Regions from separate parts of the Homo sapiens genome. Here region 2 is linked to region 1. A link means that fine-mapping ties the variant in region 1 to the expression of a gene that starts in the linked region. Tissue or cell type: whole blood. Region 1 holds a variant in brackets; the other region holds the start of a gene. All regions are shown on one strand. Distances are between the middles of the regions.

What was found. PIP is the estimated chance that this variant, and not a neighbour inherited with it, causes the effect.
Region 2: it holds the start of PANX1, and the variant in region 1 is fine-mapped to the expression of PANX1 in whole blood (TOPMed, PIP 0.99).

What each region holds. Positions count from the first base shown.
Region 1 is chr11:94,176,907-94,186,491 of GRCh38, forward strand. PANX1 (pannexin 1) reads left to right here. Exons shown (of 5, transcript NM_015368.4): 3 at 1,463-1,686; 4 at 2,696-3,351; 5 at 3,884-5,062. The coding sequence ends at 3,963. Among named protein-coding and RNA genes, the nearest start is that of PANX1, 53 kb to the left of the region's middle. The variant T/C (reference allele first, on the strand shown) is at 5,032.
Region 2 is chr11:94,123,944-94,134,983 of GRCh38, forward strand. PANX1 (pannexin 1) reads left to right here and starts at 4,898. Exons shown (of 5, transcript NM_015368.4): 1 at 4,898-5,550. The coding sequence starts at 5,370. RefSeq lists enhancers at 4,831-4,890, 5,211-5,470, 9,290-9,789 and a silencer at 5,121-5,190.

The sequences.
Region 1 (9,585 bases):
ATAGAGTCCCTGCCAGGGTTGCTGTGAGGACTGAACATAACGTGTCCACCTAGCTAATCTTTTTGTGGTTACCTGGAGTGTTTGAGTGCCTGTTCTATGCCAGGCCCTTTGCTAAGCATTTTCCATCAATTATCTCCTTTAATCTTCATGACACCTCTATTCCATGACCATTTCATACATAAGGAAACTGAGGGTCAGAGACTTTGAAAACTAACCAGATGGATGGGCTAAATGCTGGGGACAGCGGGAGCCATTGCAGGTACCTGAGCAGGGTGAACTTGGCGGTTCCAAGAGTTAAGCCTCAGTAATGGTGTACAGGAGAGAATAGAGGCAGGGAGAGCCACTTGGTAAGCACAGAGTGAGGGTTCTAATTAGGGAACAGAAAGGAAAAGAAGCAGTTTTGTCCAAGAAGGCAAAGAGCAAACAAAAAGCAATACTCTTATGTCTTATTGCTGATTAGAAGATCACGCAAAAGGATAGTCGAAAGTGACATCAAGGGCCTAGACCAGGGTCAGCAAACTTCTGCAGAGGGCCAGATCATAAAGTTTTTTTGTCATTGCAGATCACATGGTCACTGTCGCAGCTACTTAGTTCTGCAGAGTAGACATGATTGCCCAAGGCCGCAATGCTGAGCTTCAATTCAGATCTGCACTGACTGCAATTTACGGTCTTCCTAAGTCTTCTGCTGAGGCTAAGCCACCTCTGACCAACTGGTGGTCCTGGTTACTGGGGTGCTCCTCACCCTCTCTGACGTGTGAATCCCCTCTTGTTTGGTGTGTGTCTGCACCCTGATGTGGATGCTCTCCTCTTGATTCCCTTGCCCGTTGTGGATGGCCTCTCTGAGCCCAAGTTTATCCAACTATACGATGAGGGTGTTGGACTGCCTTCAAAGTCTGTTCCACATTCATTCTGCATTCTGTGAATTCAACTGCTTATTTCAGCTGTCTTATTGGGATGATTACTGAATCACTGAAGTCGAAGCTTTTCTAATTTGTTTTGGGGGAAGTTACATGTTTCTTTGGCATTTTCCCAGATTCCAGAGTAGGGCAAAAATGGAGCCGTATGCCTTAGTTGCTTCTTAAAACCATAAAAGTTAACAAAAACCCAGCAGAAGCCTTCGTGATAGCTGCAGGTTTCTTAACTGGGATTTTGTTCAGGGAACGGGAGTAATTTTATTTTTTTATTTTCCTTCTGTGATTAGAACGTACACACCATGTGTCACCATGCAGTTGCTGATTACTTCAAATTAATACCTATGGAAGAAAAAAAAATAGGTAGTTACCTGTGACAGGTATTACCTGGACAGGGGAATTTAGCCATAAGAAGTAGTTATTAGGTAATGAGCCCAATTTCCACAATACACATTTGTCTCAAGATGTGAGAAAATGAGAGCATCACTTGGCGCCATAGGTTACTGCATGGGGGGTTTGTTAAGCCCATGATTTGTTCTCTTGTTTTTCAGTTTTTCCCCTACATCCTGCTGCTCTTTGCGATCCTCCTGTACCTGCCCCCGCTGTTCTGGCGTTTCGCAGCTGCTCCTCATATTTGCTCAGACTTGAAGTTTATCATGGAAGAACTTGACAAAGTTTACAACCGTGCAATTAAGGCTGCAAAGAGTGCGCGTGACCTTGACATGAGAGATGGAGCCTGCTCAGTTCCAGGTGTTACCGAGAACTTAGGGCAAAGGTAACTTAGCCCCAGCAGGCAGCTCATCGGGTTTTGTAGGACAAATTCTCTGCCCTTCTACTGCCAGTCTGGGCCCAGAGTTCTCATTGCTAGGAGGCGGGGCAGGAGTGGAAGCAGGGGGACGTCATGCACCTAGTGACAGCCTGTAGTATCCCGGGATGTCCACTCTCCCCAAATCTCACCGCGACCCATCCTACCCATTTGTTTATCCTTCTGTCAAGACTCATTCCCTTGATGAGTGAAACATTACATCTCATTTTAAAAATGCAGTTCTTGTAGGGGTAACAGATTGAGGTGCTATATGAAGCTTGCTTGCTTTGATCTATTTAACTCCTTAATGGAGACGCACAGAGGATTTCAAGGCAGCTGAGCAAGGGATGAGAGAGAAATGGGGAATGAGTAGGTCGTGGCTTGCCTTTTCACAACCTTCTTTTGGTTCTTGTTATTGAATAATTGGAATAATAATAAGAGCCATCATTTTTTGAATATTTAATATATCTCACACACCGTATTGAGTTATTTAAGTACATTATCTCCTTTAACCCTCAGAGCAACATTACTAGTGCATTTGTTAACCTCCTCCTCCACTTTTATTCTGGATAAAAATACTCTTCTGTAGCTGTAAGTGAGAGTCTGGGAACTGAACCATGCCCTTTAGACCCCATAGTTTTTGCCCATACCCCCTGAGTTGTCCCACCCCTTGCCTGTAAGAGGCGTATGCTTACACATATTTAGGATTTACCAGATGCCAGGCATCACTCTAAAAATTTCCAAATATTAACTCATTTAATTAACTAGGCCTTCTGTTAAATATTAAGGGGAAAAGCATTTTATTATTCCTTTTCTTCCTCCTCTTTTAAACGGATTTTATTTTTGACTACTGACGTTGTAGGTAAAGAAGTATGGGTGTTTGAAATTTTTAGTGTGACATTGTTGAATGTGTATCTGCCTTTAATATTTGATGGTCTTGATGAGTGCCTAAGTTATTTTTGTTTCCTTTATTTTTTAGTTTGTGGGAGGTATCTGAAAGCCACTTCAAGTACCCAATTGTGGAGCAGTACTTGAAGACAAAGAAAAATTCTAATAATTTAATCATCAAGTACATTAGCTGCCGCCTGCTGACACTCATCATTATACTGTTAGCGTGTATCTACCTGGGCTATTACTTCAGCCTCTCCTCACTCTCAGACGAGTTTGTGTGCAGCATCAAATCAGGGATCCTGAGAAACGACAGCACCGTGCCCGATCAGTTTCAGTGCAAACTCATTGCCGTGGGCATCTTCCAGTTGCTCAGTGTCATTAACCTTGTGGTTTATGTCCTGCTGGCTCCCGTGGTTGTCTACACGCTGTTTGTTCCATTCCGACAGAAGACAGATGTTCTCAAAGTGTACGAAATCCTCCCCACTTTTGATGTTCTGCATTTCAAATCTGAAGGGTACAACGATTTGAGCCTCTACAATCTCTTCTTGGAGGAAAATATAAGTGAGGTCAAGTCATACAAGTGTCTTAAGGTACTGGAGAATATTAAGAGCAGTGGTCAGGGGATCGACCCAATGCTACTCCTGACAAACCTTGGCATGATCAAGATGGATGTTGTTGATGGCAAAACTCCCATGTCTGCAGAGATGAGAGAGGAGCAGGGGAACCAGACGGCAGAGCTCCAAGGTAGGGTTTGCTTTTGGCAGAGGCTACGGGAGTCTACCGAGAGCCTTTGCAGCAGCCTTGTGGGAATATTGACAGTCTTTACCCTGCCCATCATTTAAACCATTTCCAAGCATTAAAAACCTTAATACCAAGGTGCGGGGTAGGGGGAGTGGGAACCCCTCAGTATAAGGAGAGAGAGGAAAAGAATTGGTGCTGCTCTACATTTCCAAAGAAGAATAACTTCTGTGCTTTTTCTGGTTTTTCCCTCTTCTCTGTCTGTCTCACACTCTCTCTTGCTCAGCAATCTTCCTTGTCTTTCTTGCTTATTTTTGTCTTATCTTACTGGCTTTCCTTTCTACCTCTGATCTCCTTCTCTGTTACTCTCTGACTTTCTCTTTCAAAGGGGACTAAAAGTTTATTGATTCTTTTAGTTAGGCCAAGAAGCAAAACATGGTATAGACTGTGAGAGGAATTTTTGGCAGAAGAAAAATTGATTAGTATTGGTAATTCCTGCTATGTTTCTGTCATAAATATTTGTTTTCAATTTTGACAGGTATGAACATAGACAGTGAAACTAAAGCAAATAATGGAGAGAAGAATGCCCGACAGAGACTTCTGGATTCTTCTTGCTGATGATTTTTTTCCTTGAGCTGTAAATCTGTGACTTCTGCGACATGGGATTTAATTTGGCTAAAGCACCCCTGTTGGTTTCACAGCTGGTTTGCAATAAATGGTTCTTGGTGGAGATACTGAGCATGTCTTATTGAGTCCCTAATGGAAATGGTGATCAACAAAAGGTTATGGAAGAATGGTTTATGAACTTCCCATAGGAAGCACCTGAGAGATAGTAAACTGCAGCAAGTAACTATGTGTAAGTCCTCATCAAATGAAAAGCAGAAAGACAAGAACAATTAGTCAAGAGCAGTAGCCCTGTCAGAGCCTCGGAGCAATACCTTTCTGTACCCGTGGTGAGACAAGACCCAGAGCTACTGGAAAACAAGCACTTTGGAAGATTTGTTTTGTTTTCATGGAATAATAATATGTCAGGGTATAATTTAACGTGAGTTTCTTATGTGCCCTTAAAGACTGTTAGACAAGAAAAGCATTCACTGGCTAATAATCCATAGGTCGACCTATGTCCTAAGTTAGGTGTAAGGTCCGATGCCTTGGCCCACACTCGAGCTCTCTTTACATTGTTAGTTGTCAACCTTGGCTGATGGAAATCCCGTAACCACTATTTGTTGCACTGTGCCTTGAAGGGCAGCAGGCCCAAGTGCTGCTCTGACTGAAAACTGAGTTAACAAGATGAAATCTAAAGGATATTCACAGTGACTTCAATTCAGGAAGAATGCTTCCAAAAGAGCCCAGTGGGGAAATCTGACATCACAGAAGACATTAATTCAGTCACTTTCAAAGAGTTTGTCTACAGGCGGTTTCTCTGTTATCAAAGGCATTTGAAATAGGATTTTACTTAAACAATAATGGAACACAGGAGTATTTAAAGTGAAGAACACTTTGCCTGAATGTGATCAGGGCACATAAGTGACATTGGCATGCTTCATATGGCGTGCTTGGAGCCAGAAAAACTTAGCGGTTTATTTTGTTTATATTTAAGCACAGCTTTAAAAAATTCATTATCGTTTATTCAGTGTCCGAATTGAGGCCATTTGGGAAGAAAATTCTAGCACTGGTGGAGAATTA[T/C]AGAATAAAGATTATAAATGGTTGGATAAGACAAATGTAAGCTTATTTCATAAACATTTAAAGCTGATTCAGAACATGTTAAAAACTGTTCCCAATTCCAACTATGTAAATAGATCCTATGTTCACATTTTACACACACACACAAAAATCTTTAACATCTGTGGAACTTCCCAGTTTTAGTCTTAGAAAGTTAGCATGTTGCATAAGTTCAGTAATCCTCAGGAACCTCCAAGTTTACTTTTAGCTCTTACGGACAGTTGTTTACATAATCTAATTACTGTTTTCTGAAGAACGGAAATTATATAAGCTGCTGTCTGCCTTTTGGAATATTCAGAAAAGCAGATTTTATTTGTACTTCTGTGATGTTTTCTGAAATGGAAAGCTGATGATAAATATCAAAGTAGCAATCAGTGCGTTAAATTATTCTGTTACATGATATTTATTACTGTTGAATTATTCTGTGACTTAGAAATGGCAGTAACCTAAATAATGGAATTTGCAAAATTATTATATTGCCGTATCTGAGATGTTCCATCACAAGTTTCTACACTGGTTTCTTTTGAAAATTTAAAAAGATTTACGAGATACATTTTCTAGGATATGATTTTTTTTTTACAAAAAGCTTCATCTTCTGTAGACTATCCTTAATTTCTATTTTGAAACGGTAAAAATTGATATTTTAGGACACCAGGAAGTCTCCAAGCCATTCCCACTCTCTGAACTCCAGTAGGGTCTGTGATGTCCCAGGCACCAGTACCAAGTTGGATGTGCAGATATGCATAGGCAGGTCCCATCCTTGAGGACTTCAGAGTCCAGTAAAAGGCAGCAGAAACATGGGCTGGTGCCTAAGAGGAGAAAGCGTAGCCACAGTAAAGGCTATGCCAGAAAACTCCTAGCAAATGCTCTGTGTTCTTGGGAGAGGGCACATTGTTTTTGTTTTCTCTCCTATAGTTCCTGTAACTGCTGGTTTTGAGAATATAGTAATCATTTTTCCCAGAGGCAGATGACCACCTTAAGGTTCTTTAGCTGCAAATCCTCTAGGTTGAAGTTTGTGTGAAATAGTCACAGTGATTTTGAATAGTAAGGAATCCAGTTGCCTTTTGAACCTTCCCTCACAGGGATGAGAGAACAAGCCTGTGGAGGTTGTGGAGCTACTGGTAAACAACTGTCAGGGCCCCAGAAGGCTGATGTGGAGGCCTGGGGATACATTTCATCTAATAAAAGTATTACTAGGTATCAGTATCAGTAATAAAAGTATTATAATAAAGTATCAGTAATAAAAGTATTATAATAAAAAGTATTATTAGGACAGGTAAACTCATCCATCTACTGTGAGCTGCTGGCTTGGAGAACGACTTTTGAGGAGCCAGTTTCCTGAGGAGAAATGCTTTTATAAAGCACTCATTGCTTTGTAAAAGGAGACAAAACTGATCCTAAATGACCACTCCAGGGTTGCTGATTTTGTTTCTGGCTCATGTCTGCCTAGTAAACCACCAGCAAGCTGCTGAACCAGGCTGGAAACAACATTGTTGCAACTGGGAGGGACATAGAGTACTGTGAAAGCAGCGTTCCAACACATCTTCACTTTTACAAAGGGATAGGCAGAGACTTCCAACATAGAGGTTCTTAAACTTCGAGGGGTTACAATCCCCTTGCAAATATTTTTATAGCTATGGACCCTCTCCTCAGATCTACAGCCAACATTTTCAGTGCACCTTAGGAGGTCATTTTAGTCCACGCCTCTGAAAAAGCTGCACTCCAACGGCTGAAGAGCAAGCCATACGGCCGAGAATGGGGCTCCCTTTGCCTTCATGAAAGCTACTTCCCCCAACACTAAGACTCAGCTGTACGTTTGCTTAGCTCAGTCACATTTACATTCTTCTGGGTGAACTGTACCTTTTGAGTACCTGCCTTCATTTTCTAGAATCAGACCTAACAAGGTCAGTAGAAGCCTGGGCAGCAGCAGGCCTGGAAAGACGAGGCAGCCAGCATGAACTGCTGTTCTCTCCCTGACCACAAGGCGTCGTCTTCCTCCAGGGTCAAGTAATTGTTCTTGTTCCGCCTCACAGGAATGTGGGGAGGAAGGACGTAACACTATAAAATGCTGCGTCCTACCTTAAACTTGTACTGTGAGAAAGCTGGAAACTTCCACCTGTACAGTGGGTCTGGTTTGCATGTTTAGTTTCATTTGTGGGAACTGCTTGTCCAAGAGTGAGCTCAGGTCAGGGCAGTTTGTGCCTATGAGAATTAGCTCAGCTATCAGGCAGGTTTTTAGACACCTTTTTAAAATGTGCTCGTGTTTGGTTTGTTTTGCTTACTGTCAGTCCTGGGTCAATCAAAGGTTTGTAAGGGTGAGAATTTTTATGCACTGCTATATCGCAAGTGCTTAAAACAGAGACTGGCCCAGATGAGGCATTCTTCAAATGTTTGTTGAAATGAATGGACAAACTCTTAGGATAAATCCTAATTTGTTGGCAACTGTTATTTGATTTTAGAAGGCAAACTGATTTTATTTTAGAGAGGGGAAGGGGAGGGGAGGCTCATTAGCCTCTTGGTAGAAAGAGGACTATTTCTGCAAATGAATAGGTTTCCACCTTAAGTAGTGACAGTCCTTAACTTCTTATTATGGAGTGAGTCTTGACCGCTTTCCAAGTTCAATAGAAGTTCAAGATTGCCTCTCAGTGATTAGGGAAATTGAAGCTTTTAAAGCTCCTGGTCTCAGTAATTCCTCAGAATAAACCTCTTTAAAAGGGATATTGATGGAAATGTACAATTACCAGTAATTGAGGTTTTATCTGAGGGGATGGAGATGATGAAATGGTTCCTTCTTGGAAGTTGTTGGCATTTTGGCTTTATTTTTCACAAATAAAGTGAAACCATTTAAAACGATTGACAACGATTATATAGTGCCATGTGGAATACAATAGATATTAATTTGTGGTTGGTTTTTCTGCCTGCTTTAAATGAAATGTATTATGTTTCTGGGTTCCTTTTTTAGCTGTAAAAATACTTCGTCACTAAAGCATGAAATTTAATCAGCAGTTGTTCTTCAAGTTCCTGAAAGCTATAAAAGTTTCTCATGACTTGAGTGGTTTTTTCCCTGCCCACCAGAGGAGAAAGCCCTTGTAGAATTCTGCAGTGTTACAAGTGTTCCCTACAAAAACTGAAACCATCAGCTCCTCTTTAACAAGTTGGCTTTTTAAAAGCACGTAATTACAATTTAATGGTATTCTGTAAAGTGGTGCTTTAGGCATAATTTAAATTCTTTTTAATGACTATATTTCTTCAAAACTTTGAAAGAAAAATGTGTTCTTTTTGCTGCATCCTTTGTAAGAAGACTGCCAACAGAGGAAAAAGGACTTTACAAATTAAGACCATCTTGGTTTCATTTCCACAAAGATGAGAACAAATCATGGTGTTAGGAAAGGATCCTTAGAAGAACACAAGAATTTGAAAGCCCTTGGTGGTTATCACTACTATATTTCATATTTCCACAGAAGTGACTTAGCCAAGCTCTGCATTTTGAGCCTGCTGACTTTCATTTAAAAGGAATGAAAGGCTGAAAATCCAGGCTGCTGTGTCTGTAGATAAAGGTCAAACCATGTTTGAGTTCTTCACTGTTGTGTCCACCTAAATAAAACTGAGTAAGTAATGAAAAATGTCTTAATATTTCTTGCCTTCCCTTTAGGGAGAGTCATTTCATGGAAGATGTAATGGGAGATGCATTCCAAAATGTCTTGAGGCTCATTGCTGTCTGCTGGAAACATAAAATTCCATAGGCTTCATGCTGCTTGCTAAAATCCAGCTGGCAGTGACTAAAGAAAGAGAGTCCTTGATTAAGGGCCCACAGATTCTGGAATTTCTAAAGCACAAATCACTTGCTTTCTGATTGAGGATTGTTTGCCTGGGCTTGGGAAAAAAAGATCAGCAACCATGTGCTACTAAACATGGGTTCTCCTGCTCACCTCTCTCAAGAGGAGGACTCCTTTGTACAATGGTTAGTACAGCTTACTATTGTGGGTAATCAGAGCCATGTGAAATTTTAGTGCCATTCCTGGCATATCACAAATATAGTAAATTCTCTCTAAGTGCTAGCTTTGACTATCTTGCTCACCAGCTATTCCCAGGGTGGCAACCCCAGGACCCTTGGATGTTGTATTAGTTTTCTATTGCTCCATAACAAATTAATGCAAACTTAGCAGCTTAAAGCAATACACATATATCATCTTGCAGTTTCCTGGGTCAGGAATCTGGACACAGCTCAGCTAGGTCCTGTGCTCAGGGATTCACAGTGCTACAGCCTAGTTGTGGAAGGTTGTATTCTCATCTGGAAGGTCAACTGGGGAAAGAGCTGCTTCAAAGCTGCCTCAGGTTGTTGGCAGAATTCATTTTGCCTAACTCAGAATCAACTGATTTGGGACCTTAATCACATCTGCTAAAACCCTCCACCTTTGCCATATTATCTTGGCTAGAATCAAGTCACAGGTCCTGCCCACACTCTTAAGTGGGAGTCATGGGGCTACACTACACTCTGTCAGCACAGATAACCTAAAT
Region 2 (11,040 bases), 52 kb before region 1:
CTACCACATCAGTGTAATTACACCATACAACTTCAAGCCCCAACTGATCATAGTAACTTCCAAGTCACTCAAACAGCTCCATTCAGACGGCTTGTCCACGTCTCAGGGGCCCCCAAAATCATCACCTCCTCCCTGCTTAACAAACAGTCCAGGTTTTGTAATGGCAAACATACTCTCTGCATGACCATTCACCCCTGGACCCCCTGCAGCAGTATCCCCACCACTAGTGAATGCCATCTCATCCCCTCTTTCAATCGCTCTCTCGAATGGTTCCTAGTAGATACAAAATGGTTTTTTCTCCAATGGGAAAATAGAACACAGGGAGCCACTCAGTTTGCTCCCAACACCCCTTTCCAGCCACTCATAGCAGCTATCTTGGCAAGTATTCTAGGAGTATAGGAAAATGAAAACAATAAACTCACACACCTTTATAACATACACAACCAGTTCTGTCTACCCAGCCAAGGTATATTCTTCTTATGTGGAATGTTGAACTATATCTGCCACCCCACTAACTGGAAGGCACCTGCACCTTAGTATTTCTAAGTCCCGACATTAACATTTCCCCAGGAAATCAGACCCTATCAGTACCCCTCAAAGCTCAAGTCTGTTAGTGCAGAGCCATACAACTAATACCCCTACTTATGGGGTTAGGAATGGCTACTGCTACAGGAACCGGAATAGTCAGTTTATCTACTTCATTATCCTACTACCACACACTCTCAAAGGATTTCTCAGACAGTTTGCAAGAGATAACGAAATCTATCCTTATTCTACAATCCCAAATAGACTCTTTGGCAGCAGCGACTCTCCAAAACGGCCGAGGCCTAGACCTCCTCACTGCTGAGAAAGGAGGACTGTGCACCTTCTTAGGGGAAGAGTGTTGTTTTCACACTAACCATTCAGGGATAGTATGATATGCCACCTGGCGTTTACAGGAAAAGGCTTCCAAAATCAGACAATGCCTTTCAAACTCTTATACCAACCTCTGGAGTTGGGCAACATGGCTTCTCCCCTTTCTAGGTCCCATGGCAGCCATCTTACTATTACTTGCCTTCGGGCCCTGTATTTTTAAACTCCTTGTTAAATTTGTTTCCTCTAGGATCGAGGCCATCAAGCTACAGATGGTCTTACCAATGGAACCCCAAATGAGCTCAACTAACAACTTCTACCGAGGACCCCTGGACCGACCCGCTGGTCCTTTCACTGGCCTAAAGAGTTCCCCTCTGGAGGATACTACAACTGCAGGGCCCCTTCTTTGCTCCTATCCAGCAGGAAGTAGCTAGAGCAGTCATCACCCAATTCCCAACAGCAGTTGGGGTGTCCTGTTTAGAGGGGGGATTGAGAGGTGAAGCCAGCTGGGCTTCTGGGTCAGATGGGGACTTGGAGAAATTTTCTGTCTAGCTAGAGGATTGTAAACACACCAATCAGTGCTCTGTGTCTAGCTAAAGGTTTGTAAACGCACCAATCAGTACTCTGTAAAAACACAGCAACCAGCGCTCTGTGTCTACCTAAAGGTTTGTAAATGCACCAATCAGCACTCTGTAAAAATGCACCAATCGGTGCTCTGTGTGTAGCTAAAGTTTTGTAAATGCACCAATTATCACTCTGTGAAATGGACCAATCAGCGCTCTGTAAAATGGACCAATCAGCAAGATGTGGGCGGGGCCAAATAAGTGAATACAAGCTGGCCACCAGAGCGGCAAGCTGCTCAGCTTCCCTTCCATGCTGTGGAAGCTTTGTTCTTTTGTTCTTCACAATAAATCTTGCTGCTGCTCACTCTTTGGGTCCACACTACCTTTAAGAACAGTAACACTCAACACGAGGGCCCGTGGCTTCATTCTTGAAGTCAGTGAGACCAAGAACCCACCAGAAGGAATCAATTCCGGACACACTATTTTCCAACAAGTTCTCCATCTGGCTTCTATTTTAAATTCATTAAAAGTAGGATAACATCATATGGAATGTAAAAAATTGCCAAAACTGAGGGCAATTTATGCAACTGCTGAGATTCACTCCAGATCCTCAGAGGAACTTGCTATGTAATGAAAAAAGAGATACACAATCCATCATCCCATCACAGGAGGCAAAATGAACTAACTTCTAGGCCAGAGGAGAGAGTAACAAGGGAGGGAAGGATTCATTACAACTGGAGGATCCTGGAAGGCTTCCTAAAAAGGGGGCATTTGAGCCTAAAAAGGGGCCATTTGAGCCTATCGGATGATTAGCTTTTGGCAAGGAAAGAAGGGAAATGGCACCCATGATTTCCTGACTCCCAGAAAGCCCCTGTCCCAGCTCTGAATGTCCCAACTGACACATTCTCCCAGGCCCTACTTATTCTCTGCACCTCCCTTGGTATACCCCACTTTTCACAATAATCACTCTTTCTACCTTGCATTATAGTTAATTGTGTGCATGCCTTATTTCTCTTGCTAAGCCATAAGGTCTTTGAGGAAATGGAATCCATTCACTTCATTTCTGCTTCCCCATCCACTGAGCCCAGAACTGGCCCATCACCAGCCTCTAATATATGCCTGGAATGTATGGATAAATGAGTGTGAACTGGGCCAGTTTTAAAAAGTGTTCAGATTCCTTCAGACATTTATTTAATAATATGAATTAAAACATCAACTCTGTGTGAGGCATTTGTGCTAAGTGTTGAGGATAAAAGTGGTACACATGGGCATGGGCCTACCCTCAAGAAGCCGATCACATAAAGTGGTGGCAAACACTAAATAAATGAATAAATATTTGTTGAGTTGCAATGGTGACTATTTTTAAGAAGGAAAAATAGAGAACAATGACAGATGAAATGTACCTAGATTCACAAGGTGCCAGGCACTGGGCACTACCCACGTGTTAACTCATTTGGTCCTTATCACAGTCCTAAGAGGTACAACCTTTTTACAGATGAGAAAACTGAGACACAGGAGAGTCAAAGAACTCCCCAAGACTAATAGCTAGTAACTAGTGTGGCTAGTATTATGGGAGAATTTCACAAAGGGACCTAATCTAGTCTGTCTACTTAGGGAAGGCTTTCCCAGGGAAGTGACATCAAGCTGAGGCCAGAAGGGTGAATAAAGGTGGGCCAGGCAAAGAGGCCACTGTGGGGAGTGTTTTGGGTGGGAAGGCCTGGAGGAGGCCAAGGGCTTAGCTAACTTGAAGAACTGAAAGGAAAGCAGTGAAGCTGGTGGTGAGGTAGGCAGAGGCCATGCTAAGAAATTTGTATTTTATGCTAAAAACAATGTACACTTTAAGTAGAAAAGATGATCCGACTGGAGTTTTGAAAAGCTCATCCTGGCAGCTGTAGAGGAGAATGGAGGGGGACCCTGTCTCACATATTTCCTATATGTGGTTAGGAGACAGGATGGTGAGTTGAATTGGGTATTGGCAGTGCAGGTGGAGGGGTGTCAGATTTGCTATATTTAGGAGAGAGAAGCAAGAGAATTTGAAAATTGGTTATGGCAGCTGTGAGAAATGGAGTGTTGAAGATGGTGCTCCAGGATTCCGACTTGGGTGCACAGGTGGCTGGTGGTACATTTAGTAAGATGGGGAAGATGGAGTTCAGGTTTAAGGGGAAGATGAAGACTGAAGTCCTGGCCGTTATGAGTTTGAAGCCCTATGAGCCATCTACGCGGAGAGAGCTGTATACGCTCTTGGATGTGTGTTTAGCGGCCAGGCTGGGGTGGAGAGGTACATGTGGGAGTTGAGGCTTGTATCTGTGGACCCACAGAGAAGGGAGCCAAGCCCTGCCCCAAGGAGCCCTCATGTTTGCAGGTCCTGCCTGCTTCAAATGTTACTGGTGATAACCTACATGTCACATTTGACAGGGCTTCCAAACTAAGCCATCTAAGAAAGGTCTTATGATTCATGGCTTAGATCCTGTCCCTGAGTAAAAAATCTTACTGTGAGTCCTTCAAATCCTTTTGTCAGTTCCTCAAACTGCTGATGTACTGATTAGTATGTAAAATACTGACATTGAAAAGAACACTGACTTGTTTCTGAATCATATAAACTTTGATTTTCTTGTGCACAAAACATTTTAGCCTGTATGTTGTCATCTGCAGCCAGTGACTGTAACCTGTGTACCATACCCTCCGATGAAAAAAATCCCACCTCTGATATAAGGGGTCCTCCTCCCTTTTCCTAAACTTTCTTCTAAAACCCTTCCAACGTGTAACAAATTTTGAAACATGCCCAACTTTGCTGGTAAGTCTTCTTGGGTGGATCCTCACATTTAGCTTCCAATAAATCAAATTATTTCTACTTCAACAGCCTTAATTTCCGTGGACACTGGTCAGAGTATTTCCTCCTGTCTTTCCATCATCCACTTCCTATGAGCTGTTCAGAAGCAGCTCTCTGCAGCCCCAACACCCACCTACCTGCAGGCCCCCCTCTCTCTGCTGGCTCCCGGAACAAGGCTCTGATTGGGATGGCAGAGGAAAGAGAAACGGGACCAGCAGCGCTACTCAGGCCTCGAAACTCCACACTCACTACCGTTTCCGCGCCACCCTCTCACGCGGAGCTCCTGGAAGGGTCCAGCGCTCCCTCTGCAAGGCACCGTCGGTCTACACCGCTCGATTGGCCTTTTATGGCACTGACTGTTCTTTGAAGCTTTTGCAGCTCCTTCTAACCCGATTTCACCGTGTTGGAAATGTTGGGGGTGGGGCGTAAAGGGGGCCATCCCATCCACAGAAAGAGTCGCTTGCAGAAATGATTTTAAAACTCCCGGGTGCCAGGACGTGAGGAGAATCCGGCAGGGAGGGACGGGAGAATTTCCAAAGGTGCCGCTCAGTGGGAAAATCCCTTTGTCAGAGAGTGGCCCGAGGGGCGCGGAATGCAGCCGCGCCCACCCCGCCCCGCGTCACCGCGTCTTCCGGAAGCTCCACGCCCCTGGGTACTTGGTTTCCCCGCATGGTTCCGGAAGAGCGCGGCGCAGCTGGCTGTGAGCGCAGGGCTATCCCGGCGGCCGCTTCGGCAGCCAGGGCGGCGCGGAGGGGCAGGGCCAGAGGGAAGCGCTTTGTTCCGCGCGTGGTTCCCGCGCCTGGGGGTGCGCGGGAGAGGCGCGAATCCGAGTGCCGCGCGCGGCCCGGGGACTTGCACGGGCGTGCGGGGTGGAACCGCAGGAAGCGGAGCTCTCGGGTTCCCGCCCCGCCCCGCCCCGCCGGCGGCGGAGGCAGCGAGCGCGAGAGCCCAGCGGAGTCGCTGGGAGCCTGAGGCACCGAGACACAAAGGCAGGCGGGATGCGGGAGCAGGCAAAGGGAAAGCGAAAGCCGCGCGCCCGGCCGGTGACTGGGTGAAGGCGCCGCGCAGCTTTCCCGACGCCGGCTGTACCCGGACCTCCTGGTCGAGCCTGGCGCGCCGCAGCCATGGCCATCGCTCAACTGGCCACGGAGTACGTGTTCTCGGATTTCTTGCTGAAGGAGCCCACGGAGCCCAAGTTCAAGGGGCTGCGACTGGAGCTGGCTGTGGACAAGATGGTCACGTGCATTGCGGTGGGGCTGCCCCTGCTGCTCATCTCGCTGGCCTTCGCGCAGGAGATCTCGATTGGTAAGCCTCGCCCAGGACGGAGGGGAGTGGCCGCCCCGGTCTGGCCCGGTGAGCTGCGATTTTACGGCTCACAGGCCCGAGTCTGGGTACGCCCAGCTGTGATGGTCGTGAGCGTCAGGAAGGGCAGTGGCCCCAGTTTTATGGTCCAAAGCGTTCTTTGCCCAGGTGTTTCATTGGTACCCTGGTCTACTCTGCTCGCATCCCTACTCCTCAGTTCTTTTGTTCCTCATGCCCCTCTGATCGGACTGTGGCTTATAGTTTATGTTCCACCCTTAGAACTGGCACCTTGCCACCAGATTTGCCAAGAATAGCTGTGTCCCCGTTTTTCACCCCTGTCTCCTACATATTTGTCCAGCCGCCTAAAATTTTACACCAGAGAAGTTCCTGAGTGGCTACATGGAGGATGTGAAGACCGGTGCTCCATGAGAAGTGTGTTCTTTCAGTGTCTTACATATAATTGGTATTTGCTGAGATCTTAGCTCTCTAGGGTTGTGAATGATAGGAAATATCTGCACTTGGCAGGCATTAGAGGGATCCTCAACTTGGACGGTCTTACAAATGTGAGATGAACAAGTCCCCTTCCTGTAAATTATCATTTGAGCTTCATAACAGTTGTGTGAGATTGGAAAGTCTGGTGGTTTGGGCAGGATCACGTGGCTACGTGCCTTACCTTCCTCATCAGCTGTTCTGACTCTCCACACAGGAGAGAGTGTTTATGAACCAACAGGAAGGTAGCGCAGGAGGGTTAAATACAGTTCTGTGGCAGGGGAAGAGAGAGGACCCAGTGCGGCTGGACTTTGGGAAAACTTTTGTCAGAGGGTGGGTGGGATTTGGACAAGAAGGAGTAAGACCTTTGTTAAGGTTTTGAGATGGCAGAGAATGTTATATGTTCCTGGAAAGAGAGACACAGTGACTCTCCTAGCCAAGGCAGGAGGATAAGTCAGAGTTCCTGGAGTCTGAGAGTGAATATGGGCCTGGGTCAGCCTGGAACAGAAGAGTGTAGGCTGATGGTTTCAGAACTGTGAAGTTATTGTTTGAGCAGAGGACAGACTGGTTGAATGATGGTGGCATTTAGGGTCTGGGAAGAAGGTGAGAGGATGGGGCCTGGAGGGCTGGGTGCCAGAGAGCAAGGCATCGGCTGAGGTCTTGTGCACAGAGGGTGTGAAGAGTGGAAGAAAATGGGTGGGTGATTGCTGTGCGATCAAGGAGTAAATAAGCAGCACTTGAGTACCTAGTATTTAATAGGCCATGAACGGCAGTACTGGTCAAACGTGCTGCGGAGGTTGTATGTCTGGGTGAGTGGAGTGTGGTGTTGGTGGTGATGGGAATTGTGAAGTTGAGGGAATAGTTGATTAGGAAAGAATGACTATGAGTGTGATTTTGCAATCTGCAGCACTAAGTTGTTCAGCTTGGCAGGAAGTTGCCAAATTCATTGTGGAAAATAGTTTTTAGTTTTCCTGCTCTTTGCGCAGGCATAGTCATCGGGATGTTCTTTAAGTTTCCATTTGACAGTGGATTGAGGCTTCCAGCTGAAAGCAAAACCACCAAGTAGCATGAGTCCTGGAGATAATCTCTCCCTTTGGTCAATTCCTCCTTCAGTACTGGCTGTGTGCTGAACTCGGTGCTGACCTCCAAGGACCCGGGAGTAAAAGAGGCATGATCCCTGTCTTGGAGGTGCAAGTCTTGGGTACCTGGTTGGGACAGAAAGGCAGGAGGAAGGAGTTAGTCACCCTCTGTGACCAATCTCCACCTCTAGCACATGTACTAGAGGGACTCCTAAGGCACCTGTACCTGTAATGCCTTAGATACGTCTAAATTGGTGGGCTGTCTGAGAGGTATTTTTGGGGTATTGGGAGTGGTTTTAACTAGCAAGAGTTTGAGCTCATGCTGTGTGCATAGCACTGTTGTGTGCTGAGGGAGATGGGAAAGGATTTTGAGACCTTGTTCTTGCCCTGCCCTCTCCCTGCCCTGTGGCAGTTTACTATGCAGTTGGGCACTAGAAGGTATCTGTTAGCAGGTAAGTCATTCAGCTGTGTGTAATTCAGCACCCAGCCAGGTGTTGAGCTATGAGCTCCAGGCTGGTGAAGGTTGGCAGGCACTTGGGTGAGGAGCTGTCAAGCAGACTCCCATGTTTTCTGAAGTGTTTTCAGGAGTTCCAGGGGAGGACAGACATGTGGGATGAAGCTAACAGGACCAGGGAAGACCTATTAGATTAGGTATACATTTAGATAAAACCAGAAGAAGGGCTTTTGAGAAGAGGGGAGAGGTACATAGATTAATACATGGAGTTGGTACAGTGGGAGGGATCATGTCATGCAGCATTTAATTTTGTGTAGTTAGTAGTATGCACTCAGCCAAAAACAAACCAAAAAAAAGAACAGCAATAAAGGGAGAATGAAGTAATTGAAATGGAGCTGGCACTTTGCCCACCATATTGGCCAGTGAACTCAGGCCCCGGGAAGACACTGAGATAAGGCCTGCAGACTTAAAACATGGCTTCATCCTTCCTCTGTTGATAATTACTGCTTCCCTCTCTGGTGCTTGGAATACTCTTTTGTTGAACTTAACACAGAGCTTTATAACCTGTCTATGCATGTTTTGCATGGAGATTGAAACTACTCTATAAACATTTGTTGTGAATTAAAGGTGATAGCTTTTGGCATCATCAGACCTTGCTAATTGATTGTTATGTGCATGATGCTGTACCTTGGCAATGGGGTGTCAGACACACGTAGGACATAAGAATCTTTCCTCTGGAAGCACGGTCTAGTAGAGAAGTTGAACGCATAACCCTCCTAATGCAGGATTCATGGAACCTGGGCAGTGTCAGAAGTGTGTACTAAAGCCTGATGCTGTGGAAAGGCAGAAGGAGGGGTTTCTTCTGACTCATGAACAGTGAGAGTTTCAGGGCAGAGTTGGCCCCTGAGGCAGGATTCCAAGTGTGTGGAGCAGTGTTGGCTGAAGCTGAGACGTGTGAGACAACATGTGGCTGCTGGAGCTTTAGTGGCACCGTCACATGGAGAGGTGGGAGCCAAAGTAAGGGTCCAGGGGCTCCACATGAAAGAAGGCATAGCAAATCCCATTGTTTTCCTGTTTGTGTTGGGGGGGTGGTGTGTGTGTGTATAAAATTAGAAACGAGAAAATCAGCTGTAATTACATGTTTTTCCTTTTTCCACCTGTATGATAAACTAGTATATATAAGAATTCATCTCTTTTGATATAAAATCCCCTCAAGCGTAAAATAAATTATATTTTCCAGTTACTTTCCAAAAATTAAATTTTCTGTCAACTGTTGTTTGATAAAATAGGGTTCAAGTTGAAACTTTGTGGCGATTTTTCCTTTAAATAAATGATTTTTTACTTTAAAGAAAATCTATTAAATCAAGAAATGTGCATGGATTGTGCTTTAGATTTAAGAGCAGGTTCTCTGTGGGGGTGGGAGTGTTGTAGGTTAGAGAGAGGGAATGTCCTCATATGATAAAATACTTGGCTTCATATTAAAGGCTTCCGTTTGGTCTTTGGCCTTTTCTCTTAGTAGTTCAGCCCACTGGGCTCCTCTCAGAAAAGAGGGACTGAGCCTGCCTGGGCCACAGAGACCCATGGGCATAGCAGCAGGCTGATCTTTATCAAGCCCTGCTGGGTGCCAGCATGGTGGCTGCAGGTGAAGCGTCCACTCCTCAGAGGTTCTGGCCCCTTCCCTCCCACAGCAGTTCACGCAGGTCCTGCATGGTAGGCACTGGTGTGGGGCTACCTGGGCTGGTGGGGACTGTGTTGGGGACAGAGAGCAGAAGGGACTCTGCCTTGCTCATTCACCAGATCTTGGTCTGGCTGCCCACAATCACAGGTTGAGGGTCACTGCAGAAGTGATGTGGTCTGGAGGGGCATGGCAAGGCTGGTGCCATGGTCAAGGTGGAGGCAACTTTGGTAGTCTTTGCGGCAGCCACTCATTGGTCCAGATGTGCCCTGTGATAGTGAGAATTACAAGCAGAAACCCTCCTGAGGGAGTGGCAAGGAGACTCTTCTGAGTTGTGCCTGGGAGCATTTTGAAGGCTTTTGGACAGTGAGATACTAAGGATTGAATGTAAGAACTAAAATGTGCACCTGTCTGGTTAGGCCTGATACTTCTAGTCAGCCTTTCTAAAATACTGCAGGTGTGCCTCCTCTGAGATTCAGCTGGGTAGGGGGAAAATAAGTGACACACAGCAAAAGACAGTTTAATTGTGAGTTTGGGCTAGAAAGGCTGTGTGGTGGGAGCCAGAGAAGGGAGAATCAGTGGTTTCACCAGCCCTCATTTTTCCTTCCTCTTGTCTTCTACCATGTCTTGCCCTCAACAAGTGCTCCATAGGAATTTAGTGAAGGAAGTGCCAGAGCACACTAGGGAACTCTCCCAGAGTGGCTGTGCTGAGGGAATGGACGGAGTGTTCTGGATAAGGGTCCCAGTTGCTTGGAAGTGCGCCCTCTGAGTGCCATTTAATGATACAAGTGCTGTCCTGGGTCAGGCCTGTCCTGGCCACCTCCCAGACACCTGCCTCTGATGATAGCAGTAAAGGATGCACATCGTCATGATAGGTAAGTTGTCCCACTTGATTTATAAGCTCAGGTTATATTGCGTGTGCCTCAGATTCTTTTTTATGTTATTTTTGTGATGAGGAAGAATCTGTGTTCAGAGTGCAGAATGGTGTACTGTGGAAGAAGGATGAGTGTGATCTGTGTGGCTTGGGTACCCTATGGGTGTCACCTTGTGCAAGCTGCTGGGAGACAGTGCCTTGAGGCCCTTCATTTCTAACACATCTACTCTCAGATGCCTCTAGAAGTGCTGCACATTTCATTGATGGGGGGAGAGGTTTAGGAAATGGCTGGGCGACAGCTTTGTGTAGAATATAAGCATGATTGCATGACGTGACCTTCAAGCTCTGAAATTCTAGAAGTATTTCTCTAAAGTTATGAATTCCCTTAGTGTGCTGCAGTTATGGACTGAATGTTTGTGTCTCCCAACCGCAAAATTCATATGTCGAAGTCCTGATCCCCAATGTGATGCTAATTGGAGATCCCTTTGGGAGGTAATTAGGTTTGGATGAGATTATGAGAGTGGGACCTTCATGATGGGATGCCCTTAGAAAAAGAAGAAATCCCTCTTTCTCTCCCCCCTCCCTCTTCCTCTCCCCCCTCCCTCTTCCTCCTTCTCTCCCTCTTTCCCTCTCTCTCCCACTACCCCCCTTCCTCTCTTCTTCCCTCTTCCTCTCTCCACAAGTGCGGCCACAAGGAAAGGTGTGTGAGCACGCTGGGAGAAGGGGGCCATCTGCAAACTAGGAAAAGAGCTCTCACCAGACACCGAATCTGCTGGTACCTTGATCTTGAACTTCCCAGGCTGTGAGAAAATAACTGTTGTTTAAGCCACCCAGTCTGTGGGATTTTCTTACAGCAGCCTGGTTGAAGACAAAACTATCAACAGACCAGACTCTGAATGGGATTCATGTTTAAGGGGTCTTT